Linked DNA regions of Homo sapiens: regions 1 and 2 are each reported to be linked to region 3. The links are microRNA targets in miRTarBase. Many come from high-throughput screens and were not tested one by one. Region 3 holds a microRNA gene; each other region holds the end of a gene's coding sequence.
Evidence for each region. Region 3 holds the annotated microRNA hsa-miR-3135b (GGCUGGAGCGAGUGCAGUGGUG, at 3,675-3,696, opposite strand). A microRNA usually pairs through its seed, bases 2 to 8, with sites in the 3' UTR of a target mRNA and lowers its output. Matches are read on the target gene's strand: a 7mer-m8 pairs with bases 2 to 8, a 7mer-A1 pairs with bases 2 to 7 and ends in A, and an 8mer does both.

Region 1 (7,165 bases), not on the chromosome of region 3:
TGCCCAGGACATCTGTCCAAGGGTGGGTGCATCTCAGAGTAATTGAGGTAAGCATGGAGACCTTGTGCCCTGCCACACTCCCCAGCTGGGGGACATTCTGACATTTGTGCCTCGGCCCCCAGCCATTGTACCCCCTTTGGTGTGTAGTGTGGGGTGACTCATTTGTGTCTTGTGGCACAGGGATAGAGCTGACCCTGCAGATCCAGAGCGACACTGGTGTCAGAGCCACCCTGAAAGAGTTCAAGGAGAGACTGGCAGGGGATAAGTACCAGGCGGCCGTGCAGGCTCTCCGGGAGGAGGTTGAGAGCTTCGCCTCTCTCTTCCCTCTGCCTGGCCTGCCTGACTTCTAAAGGAGCGGGCCCACTCTGGACCCACCTGGCGCCACAGAGGAAGCTGCCTGCCGGAGGACCCCCACCTGAGAGATGGATGAGCTGCTCCAAAGGGGAACTGTTGACACTCGGGCCCTTTGAGGGGGTTTCTTTTGGACTTTTTTCATGTTTTCTTCACAAATCAAAATTTGTTTAAGTCTCATTGTTAGTAATTCTGGGACAGGTTATTAAAGGATTTAAATTTGAACCTGGCTTTCTCACAGCTGGACATAATTCTAGGAAAATAAAATACTATGTCGCCACTTGGTCATAATCATTTAGATGGTGGTGTAGGGCAAAGCTGTTAGAAAGATTGTAGCGTTTTACTCTCCCTGGGCTTTCCTCCGCCTTGCTGCAACAGAGAGGAAATGCCCATGTCCACAGCTTGTACACACTGCCCCCTCACTATCTTGTTATCCAGTGGCATGCCAAAGGAGAACTGAATTAGCTTCTGAGGCTTCTGCTGTAAATCAGAAGTGTATGTTAGTCAAGAGTAAACAAGATGCACCCAGTATGGTGGGAGGGTTTTGCTGTCAGTAGCTCAAAGTATGGTGTAGAAATGGCCTCCTCCCTCCATCCTGGGAAGTCCCAGTCCCATCCTGGTGTGAGAATCAACCAGGCTTTCCTGCTCCACCTGAGATAACCAACTCCCTCCCGTAATCAGGAAGCCAAATGTCACCTTCCCAAAGAAATTTTATTTTCACGTAGCTGAAGTGCAAAACATAGATGACCATTTTTAATAAGCACAATCAAATTTTTAACCACAGAATGTCTACAAGAATTATAGCTTTAAAAAATACAACCAATTTTTATATTTCAAAAATATTTGAACTCAAATAAATTAATTTCTTAAAAAGTACACTTCTCATACTATGTGTTTGGCATTGACTCTGGTTAACTCTTGTGCAGCAACACCTACGAGATGCTATCACACACGCGCCAGCTGCACTCCTGCACCAGCCGCTGCAACGACTGCACCTCACGTGGTGGCGGGGACTCACATTCACAAGACGGGACGGGAACATGCAGTAATAAAATAGCTTTTTAAAAAATAACACATATAAATTCATCACATAGGATTATGCTTTTCACTGCAACCTTGAAGGTGGCATTTATCTCAATCTGTGACTCCAGCTATTTAGTGGCAGACAATCCCGGTGAGGCAGCCTGTGGTCCCACCTTGTAGGTGGCAGCCCCTGCAATCTGGGGTCTAGCCTGTCGGCGTTTGCTTTATTGTGGGTGGAGCAGCTGCTGCAGAATCTGTGAGTTGACTCACCAGTCCCTACAGTTCTGCTACCAAAGTGGTCTTCAATTTAGGGGCCTGACCCCTCCCCAGCTGGAGACAAGCTGCCATCTCCAGGGCTCGCTGTAAACAGCCTCCACTCTTGGGCTGAATAAGCACTCCCAAGAAGCTGGGCCCCTACCAACAGATTAATCGGCTGCAGAGTGCTCATCCCCTCCCCACACCCCCATCCACCCCTGCCTCCTCCTCCTTTCCACTGCTTTAACCAAACCTTAATGAGGTAAGGCCAGGCTAGGTCAGGGCTCAAAGGAAAATGGGCTCAGGAAAACTTAGTTTGCCCAGCCTTGTCAGCTGAGATTGGTTTTGCTTTCCAGCCAGAAGTAGAAACTTGATGCTTTTTCCTTTTTGCAGTGTTAAAAACCATATCTCCAGTTTTATTATGTTCCATCACAGTTTTGGGGCAAAGCCAGAAAGCTGACTTGTTTGCTTCAAAACACAAACCAAGGCACTGTCTTCTGTGCTTTTCAGGGAGGTGGGAAGGTAAAGGAGACTGCCCACTATAGGGGCTCAGTTCCCCCAAAGGCCTTGCACACCTTCTGATAAACCCCCTGGCTGAGGCAATCCTACTGGCTGTGCAGACAAAGATGTGACAGCAGCACTAGATGCTGACCCAACAAGCAGTGCTGGGCCTGGGCGGTGGGGCATGTTCAGCACTGCGGGCAGCAGTCAGCACATGCAAGACATTCAGTGAGCAGAGGGCTGCCCTCGGCCTCCAACTGCAGCCGCCCTGGCGCGTGAAATGAAATTGGTGGGCCTTCCTAGGATTGTAAAATGGGACTTGTCATTTGTGTGAGGTTGAAATCTACTATACTTTGAATATGGCAACTGTTTTCAACCACTGAAGCAAAGAAGGTAAAGGCCAGATGGGGAATGAAAGGTAAGGTACTGTGGTCTATTTCCAAATTTGGGAGCAATGTGTGTAACTTCAACTGTTGGAGTAAATGAGTTATGGAAAAGCCACAATTTCTAAAATCCCAAGGTTCTACCAAAGGAGTGAGGTTCCTGGGGAAACAGGCATGAGGCAGCAGCTCAGGCTGATGTGTCCTGTGCGATATAAAAAGCTGTGGCCTGATCTCTAAAGTGGGGCTTTTGAAAATCACCAGTCCACAACTACCTGCCTGGCTAGTTTAACCTAGACTGCTTCAGAAGCAAGGGAGGGGGATAATGGACTGGAGAAAAAGCTGACACAAAACTCAAGACAACCAGTTTCAGTACCTGGGCCCTCAAAGCAATAGTGAGGACTGAGAAAGTAGCAAGGGGCACTGATGTCATCTATTTTCTGGGAAGTGTAATTTTTAATGGTTTCATTAAAAACTTACTAACCTTCTACTGGAAGAATACCTCAAATGAAAAATTTTTTTTTTTTGAGACAGTTTTCGCTCTTGTTGCCCAGGGTGGAGTGCAGTGGCGCGATCTCGGCTCACTGTAACCTCTGCCTCCTGGGTTCAAGTGATTCTCCTGCCTCAGCCTCCCGAGTAAGTGGGATTACAGGCACGCACCACCAGACCTGGCTAACTTTCTTTGTATTTTTAGTAGAGATGGGGTTTCACCATGTTGGCCAGGCTGGTCTCCAACTCCTGACCTCAGGTGATCCGCCCACCTCGGCCTCCCAAAGTGTTGGGATTACAGGCGTGAGCCACTGCGCCCGGCCTCAACTGAAAATTCTTGATGAGATTAGTCCCACTGCATAGGTCTCAGCACTGAGGTTTAGAGATGTGAGACTCAGAGTAGGTTTCAGTTCCCCGGAGTGAAGGGGGCATAGGGAGGGGCAGGGCTTCCCAGTGTTAACTGCCTCTGCCCAAATCATGACTCAGTCCTGGTACCACGTCAAGATCCCTTTGAAAGGAAACATACTTTGCATCAAGTAATCCTTTGAAACTGCCACATTGAAAAGTTAGTTTTTAACCCAAATATAAATCTGGGAGCTAAACACTAGTCACGAAGCCATCTTTACTTAATGAAGAACCACCTTGAGGGAGACCAGCCCTGCTTGCCACTTACATGGCTGCCCCTGAGACGGTCTGTTCTGTTCATGCCCCAGCAGCCTTTTGCCTTAGGTTTCAGGACCTTCTGAACCACCCTTGAGGGTGTGTGCCAGCAAATACCTCAAGTGGACTTCTACTTAGGACCACTTGAGGGCACAACTTCAGCTTCTAGAAGGCCAAGTGTGGCTGCAATTCAGGATCTGCCCCAAACTCATCAGCCCTTCCCAAGTTTCCCAGGTGAGAACAGTATGAGCTGTGAATTTCTGTGTTGGTGTGACAGGAATGCCACAGTGGTGGTGCCAGTGATCACTTTCTGACCTTCCTTCCTTCTCAGATAAAATGTTGCACAGTTATGGCCTTGGAGGCCTAAGTAGACAGCAATTAACCAGCCAGTGAGAAAACGAATCAGCATCTAGAACAGGAGGGGAGGGAACCGTAACAGATAAGGGAGCCCACGATTAGAAGCAGGCTCCCTGCACAGCCTCTGCCTCCAGCGCAAGTAACAGACGTTTCACATTTAAAGGCTGCCAAGGTATTGCTGGCGACTCTCCTGTCTGTGAACATGCGCAACGGGCACAGGTACAGAGAACCAATGAGATGTAGGCAGCACCATCTGCCACAAAAGGTTCTCCATCGCAGCCCCAGGAGCAAAATCAAACACCTCTGATGGGAGCAAGGACCCTGAACAGAAGCCAACGGCTGGAGCCAACGGGCCATGCCCTTAAAACGAGGACTTGGACAAGGAGGGAACCACTGGAGTGACGTGATGCAAGCCCTCTTCGGTCACTCTTGGCTTCCACCAGGGGTCTCTGCCTCCTTGATGAGAAGAGAAGCTGGCTGGCTCCATGATGACCTCGATGGCGTACTACAGGCCGATGGGCAGGCCGGGCCTCAGCAGCAGGCGCCAACAGAAGCACACCCAGGGCTGATTCAGGTCCATTTCAGCATAATTTTTGTGGAACAAATTAAAGAAGCAGTAATACCAGAGCTGTCCCCACTTAGGGAATAAAATTTTCAAGGCTGCAAGAAACTCTCTGTCTACAAACCAGTGGCCATTGCCTAAGGAGGCTCGGGGAGGCCAGGGGATCACTATCAGTGGGATAGGTGCTGGCGGAACCAGGGGGTGTCTCCTTCCCAGTTTCAAACTTGTCCTCAGAAGGGGGACTCAACTGGGGACGGCCGTGAGCTGTGGTGACTGAGGTGCACACAGCCTCCCAGAGGCAGAACCTGAAGAGCGCCACGTGGTAGCTCATCCAGGAAATCCGTGCTATTTGAGTTCTCATCGGCTGGGCCAACCACCTGCACCAGCTGACTAAACAGAACCGTTGCTGTCCCAAGCCCACGAGACCCAGTGAGAGGTAGTGAAGTGGTTGCAAAGGTTTATGTGGGTGGGAGCTGGAGTGTGGCCTCTGCCATGTTCACACGGGTCTGCAGACCTTCCCCACGAGGAAGGTCAGTGCTCATGCGCTCTGGCCGGCAGGAGCCAGTGGGCCACCCAGGAGAGCTGCTGGCTGCTCCTCCCTTGCATGGTGGTGATGGCCTCATGGCGCCTCAGCCCTGCTCTGCCTGCTGTGCTCTCCAGCCCCCAAGGTGGTCCTCACCATTGGCTTTGGTCACTTGTGCCCGCTTCACACTAGGACTAGTGAACACTCTGCTCGTTCCTGGTGAAAGAGTATGGGGAGTGAGTCCCAAGGCCCGCTCACAGGCACTTCTCTCCCAGGTAAAGGTGGCGAGGACAGCGGACAGGGTGCTGCTCACGCTCTGTGGCCCTGAGGCCAAGGTCGCATGTTTCCCACGACCCAGAGGGTGGCAGCCTTTCTCACCCCCACTGGCTGGTCCAGGGCCTCCCCTAGGACAGTGGGCTCCAGGAAGCAAATAAAGGGCTGCATCTGGGTCTGAAGGAGGCGATGGGTGTTCTGCCCTCCTGTTTTCCACCAAACCACAACAGTTACCTGGCTGTCACCCTCGTTCATTTTGCCACTCAAGTGTCCGGCAATGCTGAATACAGCCAGTGTGCTCCTCCCATCAGGCTTTGGCCTTCCTGCCCTCACCCTGCCCCACCAAGGGACTGGTGGCTTCCCTTCTGCCCTGGCTGCCAGTCCTCAGAAAACCAAGGCCCCCTCCATATCCAGGGGCCACTCTTCACCAGGGAGCCAAATGTAGCTGTCACCATCCCTCCAGACGCCTTTAGAGGGAGCCAGGCTCCACTTCTGCCCATGTCCAACTTAAAAACTACTAGGAGCCACGTGGGAACCATGCTGCCAGACACCAGAAACTTAAACAGTCCAGCTCAGGCAACTGTTTGGTCATGCCAACCCCTCCCCTCCCCATACCCTGAGTCACAGGTCTTGGTCACAGTGTCTGGGACCGACCTCAGATTTTATACAAAAAGCTGGGGACATAGTCAAACCTGAGCATGGGGTGGCTGGTCCCTGGAGATTCCTGCATGTAGTGCAGCTTCAGCAGCTCAGCCAGGTACTGGACCACCCTAACATCCTCATTCACCAGACCCAGGGTCAGCTTTAGGAAGCTCATCTGGCGGCTGGCTACCAGCTCCTCTGTCTCCTTGTCGTGGGTAGGCAGGTGCAGGTGGTGGCAGAAGGTGTAGAGGAAGGCCTTGGAGCAGAGCTGGGTGAGCATGCTCTGGACATGCAGGTAGTAGGTGCTGCCCCGCTTGATCTGTGTGCGGTGGTCTGCCAGGCGGGGCACCAGGGTGCCTCTGTAAAGGGGGCAGCGCAGGGTTTTGTTGTCAAGGTCCAGGATGCTCGTGTAGCGGCTGTAGCGGCTCAGGGCATGGAGGGTACCGGCACCGGCAGGGGAGGCCACTCTGAAACAGACAGGCCAAGGTCAGGAGGAAGGGCAAGGGCCGGGAAAGTGGAGGCAGAAGCTTGGGAGGTGAGGCCTCCTGTCCCCAGGCCAGCATCCACCTAGCCAGCATGCACTGGCTCTTCCTGGAAGACAAATCTGATCATTGTAATCTTCAAAGGGCTCCTCACCACTCTTATGACCAAGGTCAAAAACACGCTGGGTGGCCCACAAAGCCCTTTGTGGTCCGATTCCTGCTGAATGGACTCTTTTTTGGAGCCATGGCAAGCTTTCAGTGGGGCCTTAGAATTACAAACCTCTTTGTTCAGGCCAGGTGCAATGGCTCACACCTGTAATCCCAGCACTTTGGGAGGCCGAGGCAGGCGCATCGTGAGGTCAGGAGATCGAGACCATCCTGGCTAACACGGTGAAACCCTGTCTCTACTAAAAATACAAAAAATTAGCCGGGTGTGGTGGCAGGTGCCTGTAGTCCCAGCTACTTGGGCGGCTGAGGCAGGAGAATGCTGTGAACCCAGGAGGCAGAGCTTGCAGTGAGCCAAAATCGTGCCACTGCACTCTAGCCTGGGCAACAGAGCGAGACTCTGTCTTAAAAAACAAAACAAACAAAAAAACCTCTTCTTTCTGCCTGAAATAACCTCTCTCTCTTGTACTTAGCTTAATTTAAAGCATATTCAGCCTTCCCT
Region 2 (7,188 bases), not on the chromosome of region 3:
GGGCAGAAAGGGTGAGGGAGATAGAGGGGGTAGAGCAGCACAAGAAAAACCAACAGTGCTTGGCAACTGGAAATGGAAATCAAGGGAAAGGAGTGGTTCAGAGAGTACCCGTGGTTCCACTGTGGATGAGGAGAGAGACATGTCTGCCCATCAAGCACTTAGAATTCTTTTTTGGAAAGTAAAACCAGTACATATGAAACAATTGAAGAATCAATGTGTTATCACATGTAAGTGGATTTGGCTTATGTAGGAAAAAGGGAAGTTCACTGTTGCCCAGGGAGTCATCACTCAAGATGGGGGATTTGAGCTGTGCCCTTGAAGTGACACAGGCCTTGGAGAGCAGGGGTGGCCATTGCCAGCGCAAGGAGAACTGTATGAATATAGACACAGGATAGAGAGTGGGCAGCCTTGTACCCTCTGGCCCGACTTACTGGAGAGTAGCAGGAGCATGAAATTGAAAAGGAAACATCTTATCAAACTTGATGTTCCAAGAAAGAAGAAAGGAAAAACCTGTTTGTGCCTAGTAAGTTACAGCTCTCATCCTGTAACTTTGGTGTCTCAGATTGTAAAATGTGTGCTCTATCTAGAGTGTCAAGATGAACATTTTACCATCTGTGGATGAAGTAGTATAGAGAGGGTTGGGTAGGTATCATTTTCTCTTAAAAATCTATTCCTCTTACTGAAAAGACAGTTGACAGGAAGAGCAAGCAAACATGCCAAGAAGTTGTTAGCAAGGAGTGGCAGGGAGGAATTGCCCACCACTTCTCCTCCAGCTCAGACTCTGGTAACCAAGGCCACAGGCTCCAAGGAAGCTTACGCGGGACTGGTGCTTACGTTCTTGTCTCTCTCCGTCCCCACAGGAATCTCCGCCAGCAGTCCTCTGCAGACATCCCTTGTTCGGCCTGCTGGCCTTGCTGACTTTGGACCTTCAAGCGCCTCTTCTCCTTTGAGTTCCCCTTTGAGCAAGGGAAATAATGTTCCTGGGAATCCCAAGAACCTCCACATGACCAGCAGCCTAGCCCCAGACTCTCTGGTCCGGAAACAGGGCAAAGGCACCAACCCCTCTGGAGGACGGTAACCATCTGGGCCCTCCGACTTCCTTCAACCAAACCAGGGCTAGAGTCCTGACCTGCCAGTGGTCTTTGGATGGCTTGCCCCGTGCAGCATCTTGCATCCTGAGTCAGAAGTGGAAATGTCCAGCAGGGGAAGGACAGGCAGGTGGATGGTGTGAGCACTTTTATCATCTGTGTCTCATCAGGAGCATCTGGGGTGCCTGTAGGAGGAAGGCCACAGGGCATGGATCAGCCCCACTGCATCTCAAGTGAACTGTATAGCCAAGTCTTAAACCTCTCACGGGGCAAGCCTGACACAGACCCCCTTTAGATGCTCAGGCATACTGTTTCCATCCCGATTCCACTCTTCGGCTCTGACACGTCCCTTGCAAAGTCTCCGCAGGTGCTGTGAAGAGCCTTCCATGGTAGAGATTTCTCTTAAGAGTGTGATTTCTCATAGGGCTAGTAAGGGAGATTGTATACCTGTTGTCCACAGTCTTCAGGCAGCTCCCCAGGTCTCTGAACCCCAGAGTGTCATCATTGGAGAGAGCAGTGACTGCGAGAGATGGTGGAGGCCGCTAAGCATGGTAGAGGCTAGAGGAAGTCTATCCACAGGCAGTTGTGTTCCCAGCAATTCCTCCCATCCTGCATGGTTCACACCAAGAGAACCTTCAGATCCTACCAGCAACCGTAGCACCTTCCACCCAGGGGACTCCCAGAAGCCAGTAGAGAGACCAGGAGCCACCTCAATCAGCAGGACAGCCTCACTGCCCCTCTTGCAGAGTCCCCTTTGCCCATCCTGAATGCACAGTCTCCCTGCTCATGCCCTTCAGTCCCCTGCTTGGCTGTATGCACTGTCTATATTGCACTGAGAGAGGAAGGGACAGCAGGAGTGAGGTGAAGAGGGCGGAGAGAGGGGGCAGGCTCGGCACCGGCCCTCCCAGCCCGGCCAGCCTGAGCTTGCTGCCCTCCAGTAGAGACAGAGGGGCAGTGTTTGCATGGGAGGTGTTTCTGCCTGTCCCTGCCTGATGTCCCTGGTGGAGCAGGTACCTCCGGGCGGGCAAGCCTCTGATTTGCACACCTGAAAATCGCGGAATTGAGTTTCGATAGATTGATTTTTAAAACTTTTTTGGAGTAGGGGGTATAGGGGAATCATTTAATTTAAATCATTAAGATTCCCCTGCTCAAACCCAGATTCCTGTGTACAGATGCTATTTAGAGGGAATCAGAAAAATGCCAAGCCTTTTCTCTTTGAATGTGCTATTTTTATAACTGAACTTGTACATATGTATAAAGAGAGACACATCTTCCTTTTACTAACTGGATAAAAAAATCTTAAATAAAATGGAGTGAGATAATTTTATGTAAATTGAGGTGTCTGTGGTCTTTGCAGCTGCCCCTCCTTGGAGGCAAACTAGAGCCCTTGGTGGATGTGGCAGGATACAGGGAAAGCAGAGCCCTCGCCTGTGATCAGAGAGGACAGGGGTTGGTGGGACAAGGAGTGGACTGTGGGTGTTTCCTTAGTAGCAGAATTGATTGGGCTTATGAATTTGCCTCTGGCCATCAGAAAGGAAGCTTGACCAACTGTCTGACATGCAGTGGTCAACGCCCTTGTCTCCATGGTGGGCTCTTTATGACTCAGGACTTAGACCCCAGGACTGAGGTGTGGGCGGCTTGGCCTAGGCGCCATTAAGCAGAGCTACATAGTGGTCATCTTAATAGTGGCAGTGTTCTCAAAGTTAGCTGCACTCTTAAGAATCATGAAAGAAAATGGTGAAATACATTCCTAAGGATGCCAGAGACATCCAGGCTGTGAAAACTTACCTTGGTGATAGTTGGGAAAAGAGCCCTAGTTCCCAGCCTGGCCTGGCAGCCAGCGTTTCTCTGACTGGGTGAAACACTGATAAGCTCTTGTATCACTTTTGGGTAGGGCTCATGTGGTTCCCAAGTATGCTGGCTGTGTGGCCTCCCTAGCCTTGCTCACCCTGCACGCTGTTGGTCAGGGTGGGCTGGCTCCTGGGCAGCTGATGCCCACCACAGTCACAAGGATCAGCCTTTCTTCATTGACATCAAGTACATTACTAGATACTCTGGATCTTGTTTATCTTGCTGGTGAACTTGACCAAGGCCTCACACAGAATAAACCAACATCAGAACTAAGCAGCTCTGCCTTTACATGCTATGTAAAGATTTTTCATAAGAAAAGATAGTAATTTGAAACCTGAATTGTCCCTTAAGGCAACGCTTCTCCAGTGTTAATGTGCACACAAATCACCTTGAGATCATAACATGCAAGTTCTGTTTCTGAAGGTCTAGGTTGAGGCTTGAGACTGAGTTTCTTGAGAAGATCCCAGGTGATGGCCATGCTGCTTGCTAGTCCTTGGACTACCCCTGGAATAACAAGGCCCTAGGGTGCCTTCCAGCCCTGCCAAGCAGGAAAAATCTCTGCTCTTTGCTTATATGCCCGCACCCCAGCCAGGAAGCCCGGTGCAGGAAATACTTTATTTTTCCTCTTACCCAGCTTAATACACCTGATGACAGAAAATGAAATCCTAGCATTTCTAGAGAAATTCAATCCCTTATATGTTTTCTCCATTTTTGTTTTGTTTTTTCATTTTTAAACTAACTGTTCATCATTTTCTCCATCACTTCCTGGGTAGCACCTCTGTTGGGCATGTTAGGTATGAGAGAAGGCCTCAGATTTGCTACTGTCCCTCTCCTGTGTGGCCTCCACCAAGATGCAATATGTCATGAAGAGTCTGTGACCCCTGGACTCAGTGTTTCCTGTGCCTGTGTCCTTTTATTGTGACCACCAGACTCCTGGATCAGTCATCTTTCTCAACTAATTCCTAAGCCCCTCTCAGGGGGCATGGAGACCGTTTGGCTGCTCTCCCACGCTTCTCTGAGACTACCAGAGAGTCGCGAAACCCCCAACTGGGGAGGCAGCGTGTTGACCATGGGTGCCCAGTTCAGCCAGCCTCATGGTGCACATTCAGACCACTTAGATGGTGGGGTAGGGAGAAGGCAGGTTGTGTTCTAGAGAAAGCAGAGACGTCCGGTTGTCACGAAATTGTGTGTCCAAGTACTAAGGCGGCCCACTGCCTCATCAAAGGACCCTGAGGAAGCTGGGTGCCTCCCTTATCTGGCCTCTTCCTGCGCCCTCATTTCTTTCTTGCTTCAGGTCCTGGGACTTAGCTGGCTTCCCTTTCCTCTTCAAAACTGCCACCACCCACTCTCTCGCTCCAGTTTCTCCCCCAACCCCCACCCCCGTGGCAAGCTGCTGGGGGATGGACTCCTGGTTCTCTCCTAGCTGCTGCCAGAAGTGAGCATCATGCTTTTCTTTTTTTTAAATTAAGGATTTTCTTGCTCATCACAACAAGGACACCAGGCAAAAACAATACTGTATACAGAGAATTACAAAGCTTGAGATACTTCACAGTCCTCACAGAATCCCTGCCTACAGTTCCTGGCACCTTTGGTGAGAAACAAGGATTCCTGAGGGAGAGGCTCCTGGACTCTTACCTCCTTCCTAGAGAGCTGAGTTCTTTCTTCCAGAAAGGCATATGGAATGTGCATCTGTGAGTGCCCACAAGGCCTCTGCTCTCCTGCCACTTGGGATTTCATTGTTCTGGCACACAAATCTCAAAGATAAATATGTGGCCCAAGGATTGGGGAGGCCCCTCTGGGTCTGACTTGGCAACAGCCTCAGGGGAAGAAGGAAGGGGGCACAGAGGTTCAAAGTTGGAGGTGGTGGGGAGTTTTCTAAGTTTGCTCAGCTGATGCCCCCCTAAAGCAGCTCTGGGAGAGAATGCCCGGCCTCAGCTCAGAATGTTCCACCCTCCTACCACCCCCCCAGCACATCACCACAAACCCCACCCTGAACTAGAGGCCCACCCCCCAAGCTGTTCCTGGCTGCCAGAGAAGAAAGGAGCTCCCCTCCCATTTCCCAGATGAGAGGTCCCAGAAGACCTATGCTGCTCCATGCCTTGCACCCTTGAAGAGATGGTGCCAGTTACCTGGGGATGTCTGAGCAGAGTGGTGGGGAGAGTTCAGGTCCAATGGATTGTCAGTGCAGTTCAGCTTCAGCAGTCTTAGTTTGCCTTCGGCCCGGTGGAATTGGGAAGAGCAGCATAAACTCTTACCTAGAATTTTTCTGAATAGCTAAGTCTTTCAGAGGGCTAACATTTTAACCCGGTATTCTAAGCACCAGAATTTGGCTTGGTTAGAACTCTCTTTTAAGGATACTGTGTCACTGCATGGCTAAACAGAACATACCGAACATACCTTAACCTTTCCTAAGGGCTTGGGGTCATGTGGGCATCTGGTGCTCTCAGGCCCACTGGGACGTACTACTGTTTCCCCTGGATTAAATCATGCCAACAGCTACACTGCCACAAATTGTCTGTGAGACAGGATTTTGCTCTGTCACCCAGGCTGGAGTGCAATGGTGCAATAACAGCTCACTGCAGCCTCGACCTCCCAGGTTCAAGCAATCCTCCCTGATCAGCCTCTACCATAGTGCTGGGGTTCCAGCCACAGTTCTTAAGCTCTGAATAGTACCAGTGCCAGTGCCAGCTGCCTCAGTGTTTTTGTATTTATATGATGAGATAGCTGCTCCTCTTAAAAAATAAAATCTGGGCTGGGCGCGGTGGCTCACGCCTGTAATCCCAGCACTTTGGGATGCCAGGGCGGGTGGATCACAAGGTCAGGAGATTGAGACCATCCTGGCTAACAGGGTAAAACCCTGTCTCTACTAAAAATACAAAAAATTAGCTGGGCGTGGTGGTGGGCGCCTGTAGTCCCAGCTACTCAGGAGGCTGAGGCAGGAGAATGGCATGAACCCGGGAGGCAGAGCTTGCAGTGAGCTGAGATTGCGCCACTGCACTCCAGCCTGGGCGACAGAGCAAGACTCCGTCTCAAAAAAAATAAAAATAAAATCTTTTTTTCCCCCAAACACTGATCTTAACACCCCTTCTTCTAATGTACCTTTTCTAAATTGTTGGGGGCTTGGAAATCATTTAACTAACTCAGAACTTCTGAGCTAACAAAAAGAACTTCAGAGGAGGATTGTAGGATGTCCTAGGAATTAAGTGACTGAGCTTCAGTGCATGCTTTCCACGGATGCCTGTGGCCCTCTGCTGGGCCGCAGTACCACAGTTCTGGTTAAGTAAAGTAACATGTTCTAGATAAGGGTGTTCCGGTTTGAACCAGTTCAATAAAGTTTGTTGATTTTACTCCTTTTTTTCATTCTTTGAAAAAAAAAAAAAGTATAGATCACCTTGCACATCTAGGAAAAGTTCTGCCAAGGGGTCTAGGTAGTAGACTGGTGCATGCTCCCTCTCGGACTCCATCTGCAGGCAGAGTAAGTCAGTATAGTCCATCACCGGATTTTAGTAGGAGCAGTGAAAATGAAATGGGCAAGCTCAAAAGCCAGTGTCTTTGCACTTCATCTCCACTACCCATGCCTCATCTTTATTGGACTAGGCTGGTCATCCCTAGGGAGTAATTTGGACTAGGCTGGTCATCCCTAGGGAGTAATTGCAGTGTCTGTCCACTGGTTGGGCCATAAGCCCTCTGACCAATTAATATCATTGTTCATATTGGTTAGGGTAACACATGATGCTGTAACAGACCCCAAAATGCTTAAATATCTTATTTAATGGCTTAAATAAGATATAAATTCTTATCTCTCACATGTAAGAGTTTGAATTTGGATCTGCTCTACACGAACATTGAAGGTCCCACATTCTTTCCATCTTGTTTCTCTGCTGTTTTGATGCTTTTGTCCTCATCAGCATGGTCATTACTGGTTTATAGAAATGTCCTATGGGGCCGGACACAGTGGCTCACACCTGTAATCCCAGCACTTTGGGAGGCTGAGGCAGGCGGATCACTTGAGGTCAGGAGTTCGAGACCAGCCTTGCCAACATGGTGAAACCCCATCTCTACTAAAAATACAAAAATTAGATGGGCATGGTGGCGGGCACCTGTAATCCCACCTACTCAGGAGGCTGAGGCAGGAGAATCAGTTGAATGCAGAAAGCGGAAGTTGCAGTGAGCCAAGATTGTGCCACTGTACTCCAGCCTGGGCAACAGAGCAAGACTCCATCTCAAAAAAAAAAAAAAGAAAATGAAA
Region 3 (7,191 bases):
ACTTTGGTCTGCGCCCTGGGGTTGTCTGTGGGCCTCATGGGCATTGTGGTGGGCACTGTCTTCATCATCCAAGGCCTGCGTTCAGTTGGTGCTTCCAGACACCAAGGGCTCTTATGAATCCCATCCTGAAAAGGAAGGTAAGATTGAGATTTGTTGGAGCTGAAACCTCAGTATGAGAGGGAGGAAAGTGGGAGGGGGTTGTGGACATGAATGTGGTTGAAAGTTGTAGGCGAATTGGGAAGTGGCATGATGATCACACAGGAGGCCCCTCAGACCCATCGATCTCATGTCTGTCCTGTTGCAGGTGCATCACCATCTACAGGAGAAGAAGAATGGACTTGCTAAATGACCTAGCACTATTCTCTGGCCTGATTTATCATATCCCTTTTCTCCTCCAAATGTTTCTTCTCTCACCTCTTCTCTGGGACTTAAGGTGCTATATTCCCTCAGAGCTCACAAATGCCTTTCAATTCTTTCCCTGACCTCCTTTCCTGAATTTTTTTATTTTCTCAAATGTTACCTACTAAGGGATGCCTGGGTAAGCCACTCAGCTACCTAATTCCTCAATGACCTTTATCTAAAATCTCCATGGAAGCAATAAATTCCCTTTTGATGCCTCTATTGAATTTTTCCCATCTTTCATCTCAGGGCTGACTGAGAGCATAACTTAGAATGGGCGACTCTTATGTTTTAGGCCAATTTCATATCATTCCCCAGATCATATTTCAAGTCCAGTAACACAGGAGCAACCAAGTACAGTGTATCCTGATAATTTGTTGATTTCTTAACTGGTGTTAATATTTCTTTCTTCCTTTTGTTCCTACCCTTGGCCACTGCCAGCCACCCCTCAATTCAGGTACCAACGAACCCTCTGCCCTTGGCTCAGAATGGTTATAGCAGAAATACAAAAAAAAAAAAAAAGTCTGTACTAATTTCAATATGGCTCTTAAAAGGAATGACAGAGAAATAGGATACAAGAATTTTGAATCTCAAAAGTTATCAAAAGTAAAAAATTTTGTTACCAAAAGTCAAACTGCATTCTCAAAACTTTAAATTTGTGAAGAATGACAACAGTAGAAGCTTTCCTCTCCCCTTCTCACCTTGAGGAGATAAAAATTCTCTAGGCAGGAAAAGAAATGGAAGCCAGTTAGAAAAACATTGAAATAAGGCCAGGCACGGTGGCTCACACCTATAATCCCAACACTTTGGGAGGCCAAAGTGGGCAGATCACTTGTGGTCAGGACTTCGAGACCAGCCTGGCCAACGTGGTTACACCCTGTCTCTACTAAAAATACAAAAATTAGCTGGGCATGGTGCTGGGCACCTGTAATCCCAGCTACTCAGGAGGCTGAAGCAGGAAAATCGCTTGAACCTGGGAGGTGGAGGTTGCAATAAGATTGTGCCACTGCACTCCAGCCTGGGCAACAGAATGAAACTCCATCTCAAAAATAAATAAATACATATAAATAAATTTTTTAAAAAAGAAAAATATTAAAATAAGGCAATAATATAAGGGGGTATCTGAAAAGGAACAAATGCTTGTTCCTTACTTAGGGTTAGTGACAATGGAAAACAGATAGAAGTAGAAGCTACAGACCCATTTAGGGGCCCCAGCCCCCTGCTCCTCCCCCTTCCTGGCTAAGGAAAGCATGAGCCTATGAGAGAGAAATCCTAGGAAGAACAAGACAGTTGAGACAATGTAGCAGCAGTAGTGGGTGCTGTGTCCTACACTGGATTCGTGGTCTCCTAATAGAAAATCTCTCAGAGGAAATGGGTCCACAGGGACCTGAGAGCTCTAAACAGCTATGAAATCTGCCAGGATATTTCTGTCCATGCTATCTGCATCAGTGAGTTTAAAATGTAATAGGAGAAAAAAAAGAGACAAAACATTAACATAATAATTGATACAGCATAGTTTTGTACAAAGAAACCTAAATCCAAATACTTGACTCAGTATTTTGAAGCTAGTATTTTAAACTTTACTGGGTAAAGTATCTGATTGACATTTCTGAACCTTATTTTTCTCATCCACAATGTGGGAGTGATAATATTTTCCTTGCAGAGTTATTGACAGAATTTGAATAATCTTGGTATATAGACAGTGCCTTACACGTAGTATATAAATATATAAGAAAACACTGCAGTTATGTTTATAATGGATTTATTAAAAAGAATGGATCATATTATATGAAAAGTACATTTGTTTTCCTTAGCCCTTTAGTGATTTAGGAGATTCAAGCGTAGACGTAAAAGTGAGTTTCTTTTCATATGTTAACTGGAGGATTTTTTTCTTTCTTGAGAGGCTGAGATTGGGTTGCTAAGAGAACTCTTAGGACAAGAAGTTGTAATATTTGACTTCGGTTTTTAACTCTCTAAGGGGTATATTCCCTCCTTATGTCCCATAAATTTTAAGTCAAGGTGAATTATATGCAACAGCAGTTTATCCATATTTACTTTGGGGAGGAGGTGGGGAGACTCCGGGAGAAAATAATTATAAATGCAGACTGGGAATTAGTAAGTGCAGGGAATCTGAACCAGTGGTGATCATGAAAACGTCCATCACAGAACACAGAGGATTTTTAGGGCAATGAAACTACTCTATTTGATACCACAATGGTGAATAAATATCATTATGCGCTTGCCCAAATCCATAGAATGTACAACACCAAGAATGAACCTTAATATAAACTATGGACTTTGGGTGATAATGATGTGTCAGTGTAAGTTCATAAGTTGTAGCAAATGTACCTCTGTCATGAAGGATGTTACTAGTGGGGGAGGCTATGCATGTGTGGGAACAGAGAGCATATGGGATACATCTATCTGTACTCTACAATTTTTCTGGGAACCTAAAACTTCTCTAAAATAAACTCTATTAAAAAAAAAGAAAAGAAAAGGTCAACAATAATGATCCCAAATATATAAAATTAAAACTGTAGTATAAAAATGGTCACATGAAAATGCATGAATGTGCTAAGAACTTTTCTGCAATAGGATTTAAAATAAATTTTATATAAATTTCAATGATTCATGAGCCAAGAACCCAGCATTCTGGAGGTGTGTGCATTTGTGTGTGTGTGTGTGTGTGTGTGTGTGTGTGTGTGTGTGTAAGGCTTACATTGAATGGCATTATAACCAGAGTCATACAGAAATACACAAATGCTCCCCTATTTAGAATCCTTCCCCAAGAAATACTGAGGAAAGCAAATATAATGGTAGTTGGATTTTACTGAAAGAATGTATTCAAAAAGTATTTATATAATGTTAAAATAGCATAGCTAAAATTAGTTTTATAAAATAGAGCAAATATATCTTTTTATCAGCTAAAAGTTCAAAGTGAAATCATCATTATTATATTATTATATTATTATTATAAACAGTTATAAATCAGGCTGCATGATTTTAAATTAAATGATTCTTAAAAATTGTTATCTGAATTATTTCAGATTACATACATAAAGTATGACTTCATTAATAGGTAATATCACATTGTTTAAATTTTACAAAATTTCCAGTCACAATGGTTCATGCCTGTAATCTCAGCACAAGGTGAGGGTCCCTTAAAGCCCAGGAGATGGAGACCAGTCTGTAGTCCCAGCTAGTAGGGAGGCTGAGGCAGGAGGATTGCTGCTTGAGCCCAGGAGTTCGAGGCTGCAGTGAGCTAGGACTGACTGCACCACTGCACTCGCTCCAGCCTGGGCAACACAGCGAGACCCCGTCTCTAAAAATAAATAAATAAATGAATAAATAAATAAAAATTACAAAACGTAAAAATCACGTAAAATATTTCAGGTTTGTACTTACCACATACAAACTAGAGATATGAAGAATTAAACATTACAAATAAAGCACTTCACACACAGTCTGGCCCATAGTAAGCAGTTTATAGAAGTTAACAAATTTGTGTTATTGTTATTTTCTGGAGTCCAAGACAAAATCCCATGATGAATGACACCACAAGGATGTAAGCAACAAAATTCAGAATATGAGAAGTTCTACTAGATTAAATAAAAAGATTTCTCCAGCAAACAATTTGCAAAAAAAGTTAAAAATAGAGAAAAGAAAAGCTATACACTTGAAAAAGACTGAAGAAATATAGTAACCAAACGCTGAGCTTTGTCTAGATTCATATTCAAACAAAACATCTGTTAAAAAATTTATATGAGGCAATCAGAAAAATTGACACTGAGTGTATTAAGGAATTATTTATCTCGTTTTAAATGTGTTAGTGGCATTGCTGTTATGTTTCTAAAAAGCCATTATATTTTAGATTTTCATAATAAAAATGTATAAATGAAATATGATACCTAAAAATATCTTCAAAATAATCCAGTATGTGCCTGTATGATAACTGGGTGGGTTTACAAAATTGCTCATGAATTGATTATTGTTAAAGCAAGGCTGTTGATACATGGAATTCTTCTCTGTACTATTGCACACAGTTGAAATTTTCTGTAATACAAAGGTTTTTTTTTTAAATGTATTCAGGAAAGTCCCATAAACATAGGCAGACAAGCATTCTGTTTGAAGTTATGTTAGTTTTTCAGTTTTTCTCATTTTTATCACATTTAGGAAACCCTGTCCAAGGCCTGCCCAAGACTGTAAGAACCTCTCAGGAATGCAACTATAAAGAATGTGTATGCAGGAACTAATAATAACAAAGGAAAGCAAAGTAATGCTTGCTTTATTATTGGCTGGACTAAGCCCCCAGACTTGTTTATATATTCACTAATTCATCAAAAATGCAAAAATGGTCATTGAGTACCAGTGCTACAATAAGTACTCATAGTTTGTTGAATGTTATTAAAATAATGTGAAAACAATTACATTCATTATCTTCATAGAACTTACACTCCAGTGGGAGGAAAATACATATATTACATAATTCCACAAACATAGTTACAAGGTCTGAAACATTTATAAAGAAAAAGAATGAGGTAAAATGAGAGAGTGTTGCACAGGGACCAGGTATGGTTTGGGGCAGTTTAGAAGTGGCTTGAAGAAATGTATCTTGAGATGAAATAAGGTGGTATACAGTAGGTAAAGGACAAGGTTGAAGAGGCCAGAGCAAATGTTTGAGAAACTCTTACAATATGAAAGAGAAGATGAGAATAAAATAACATGAAAATTATCACAGATTTAATAGAGAAAGTTCATGTAACAGCAAACAAGTTTAAAGTCATTCTAATTAGAATTCTTGATCTGTAAAAGTAATAATAGAATGCTAAAAACAATTGGAAAATTTAATAGAAAGATTGGAAAATTAAATCAAGAAAATCTCACAGTAATTTAAAAGGCAAAAAAAAAATGTAATATATGGTAGAAAAAATAAGATGGAGAACAGACCAAGGAAGTCAAACATCAAGTGACAAAGCTAGAGAGACCAACAGGGAAGATGAAGGGAGAAAATGATCAGAACAAATAATAAGGGAAAATGTTCCAGATATAAAGGATTTAATTCTTCCATGGAATAGTCTTGTCAGGTATTTAGCAAAATTAACAGACTCACTTCTAAATATCTCATTTTCAAAATTTCAGAACTTCAGGTGTTATAGAAAAGTCATAAAATATTCCAGTGGCGGAAACCAAAATGAAACAAACTGACAACAAAAAAAATACTTCTATTATTAAGATAATGAGAAAGTCCTTGAAGTTCTAAAGGAAAATTATTTTTTATTAATAAATGTAGATCTTTTCAAAGTCACAATCAGGCATGGAGAAAGAATAAAAATACCTGTGAATGTGAAAGAACATAAAATTTACCTACCACGCAGAGTTTTACTAGAAATTGACTAAGGATATGACCAATTGAGATTGTTAATCAGGATATAGGAAGGTAAGGAATCCAGGAAACTGGGTCTAACCCAGGATCTCACTGAAAACGGATCCTACTACAGCAGTTTCTTGGCAAGCAAAGAATACCTGACTACATAAGTGATATTTAGAAAGTGATAAACTTTTTTTTTTCAAATTTAGAATTAATCTGTGAGCAAAGCCCAAGGAATCTTATTGCTACAGCAGAATGTCAATATTTTCAGCTTTGACAATATTGGGGGGAAAAAAAAGATGTAGATACTTCATTATGGCAACTGGAAGTGTAAAGGAGAGGGGAAAGGGAGGGTGAAAATGCCAATAACTTCATCTTCCAAGAAGGAGGGGAAGAGGCATTGCCCATACTTACAGAAGTCACAAAGATCAATATATTTAAATTACAATCACAACTGGAAAAAGTATGTAAAATGACTCATGAATTAGAGCAAGGTTTTAGAAATTGGACTATTATTTCAGTTACAAAAAAAATGGACTGTTATTCTTCGGCCTAAGCTATTCAGAAGCTGCAAGAGCCCCTCAGAGTCGGCCCAAATTAGAGCAGGTTGTATACTCCTATACTGACCAATCATTATAGGCGAGTTCCTCCTGGGAAGTGGATCAAAATCCGATGAGGCAGCTTTCATCACCTAAGGCAATTCCGGGGCGTGACTGAAAGCTGAGGGCAGTCAGCCAGCAACATTCCCAGCAATGACAGAATAAATCGTTCAGTCTCAAAGGGAGGAGTTTAGGTACAGTGGAACAGCACTGACGGCAGAAACACTGTTCTAGTTCCTGGGAGTACATATACATTCATGTGGAAGAAAACAAACAGATAAAATTCAGCATCTATTTAAAAATTAAAAATAAAACTACCACATGATCCAGCAGTTCCACTTCTGGGTACATATGCAAAGAAAATGAAATCTGTATCAAAGAGATATCTGCACTCCCGTGTTTATTGCAGCACTATTCACAATGGCCAAGAGATGGAATCAACCTAACTATCCATCAGCAGATGAATGGATAAAAAAAATGTGGTGCATATACACAATGGAATACTATTCAGCCGTATAAAAGAAGGAAATCTTGTCATTTATAGCATGGACGAACCCATTGGACAGTATGCTAAGTGAAATAAGCCAGGCACAGAAAGACAAATACGACATGACCTAACTTATATGCAGAATCTTAAAAAGTCAAAGTCATGGAGGGGGTGGGGTGTGGGGAGAGGGAGAAAAAGGAATGAGATGTTGGTCAAAAGGTATAAGTTTCAGTTAGAGAGGAGGAATAAGTACTGAAGATCAATTGTGCAGCATGGTGACTAGTTAACAATATCATACAGTTGTCCCTTGGCATCCATGAGGGATTGGTTCTAGGACC

Region 1: the mRNA of SMCR8 is a reported target of hsa-miR-3135b. Seed matches in the 3' UTR shown: 7mer-m8 at 5,051-5,057, 7mer-m8 at 4,355-4,361 and 7mer-m8 at 1,704-1,710.
Region 2: miRTarBase lists INO80 as a target of hsa-miR-3135b. Seed matches in the 3' UTR shown: 7mer-A1 at 1,196-1,202.

The regions. Positions count from the first base shown.
Region 1 is chr17:18,321,935-18,329,099 of GRCh38, reverse strand. It overlaps SMCR8 (SMCR8-C9orf72 complex subunit), which reads right to left. Exons shown (of 2, transcript NM_144775.3): 2 at 1,044-6,483. The coding sequence ends at 6,030. SHMT1 (serine hydroxymethyltransferase 1) reads left to right here. Exons shown (of 12, transcript NM_004169.5): 12 at 181-1,227. The coding sequence ends at 350. Among named protein-coding and RNA genes, the nearest start is that of SMCR8, 10 kb to the right of the region's middle. RefSeq lists a silencer at 3,267-3,376 and enhancers at 5,906-6,405, 6,406-6,907.
Region 2 is chr15:40,974,113-40,981,300 of GRCh38, reverse strand. INO80 (INO80 complex ATPase subunit) reads left to right here. Exons shown (of 36, transcript NM_017553.3): 36 at 861-2,421. The coding sequence ends at 1,078. It overlaps LOC105370789 (a long non-coding RNA gene), which reads right to left. Exons shown (of 4, transcript XR_007064601.1): 4 at 6,340-6,403. It overlaps LOC124903476 (a long non-coding RNA gene), which reads right to left and starts at 924. Exons shown (of 3, transcript XR_007064602.1): 1 at 835-924. RefSeq lists an enhancer at 4,213-5,412.
Region 3 is chr6:32,746,278-32,753,468 of GRCh38, forward strand. It overlaps MIR3135B (microRNA 3135b), which reads right to left and starts at 3,702; the gene lies at 3,635-3,702. HLA-DQA2 (major histocompatibility complex, class II, DQ alpha 2) reads left to right here. Exons shown (of 5, transcript NM_020056.5): 4 at 1-137; 5 at 305-921. The coding sequence ends at 117.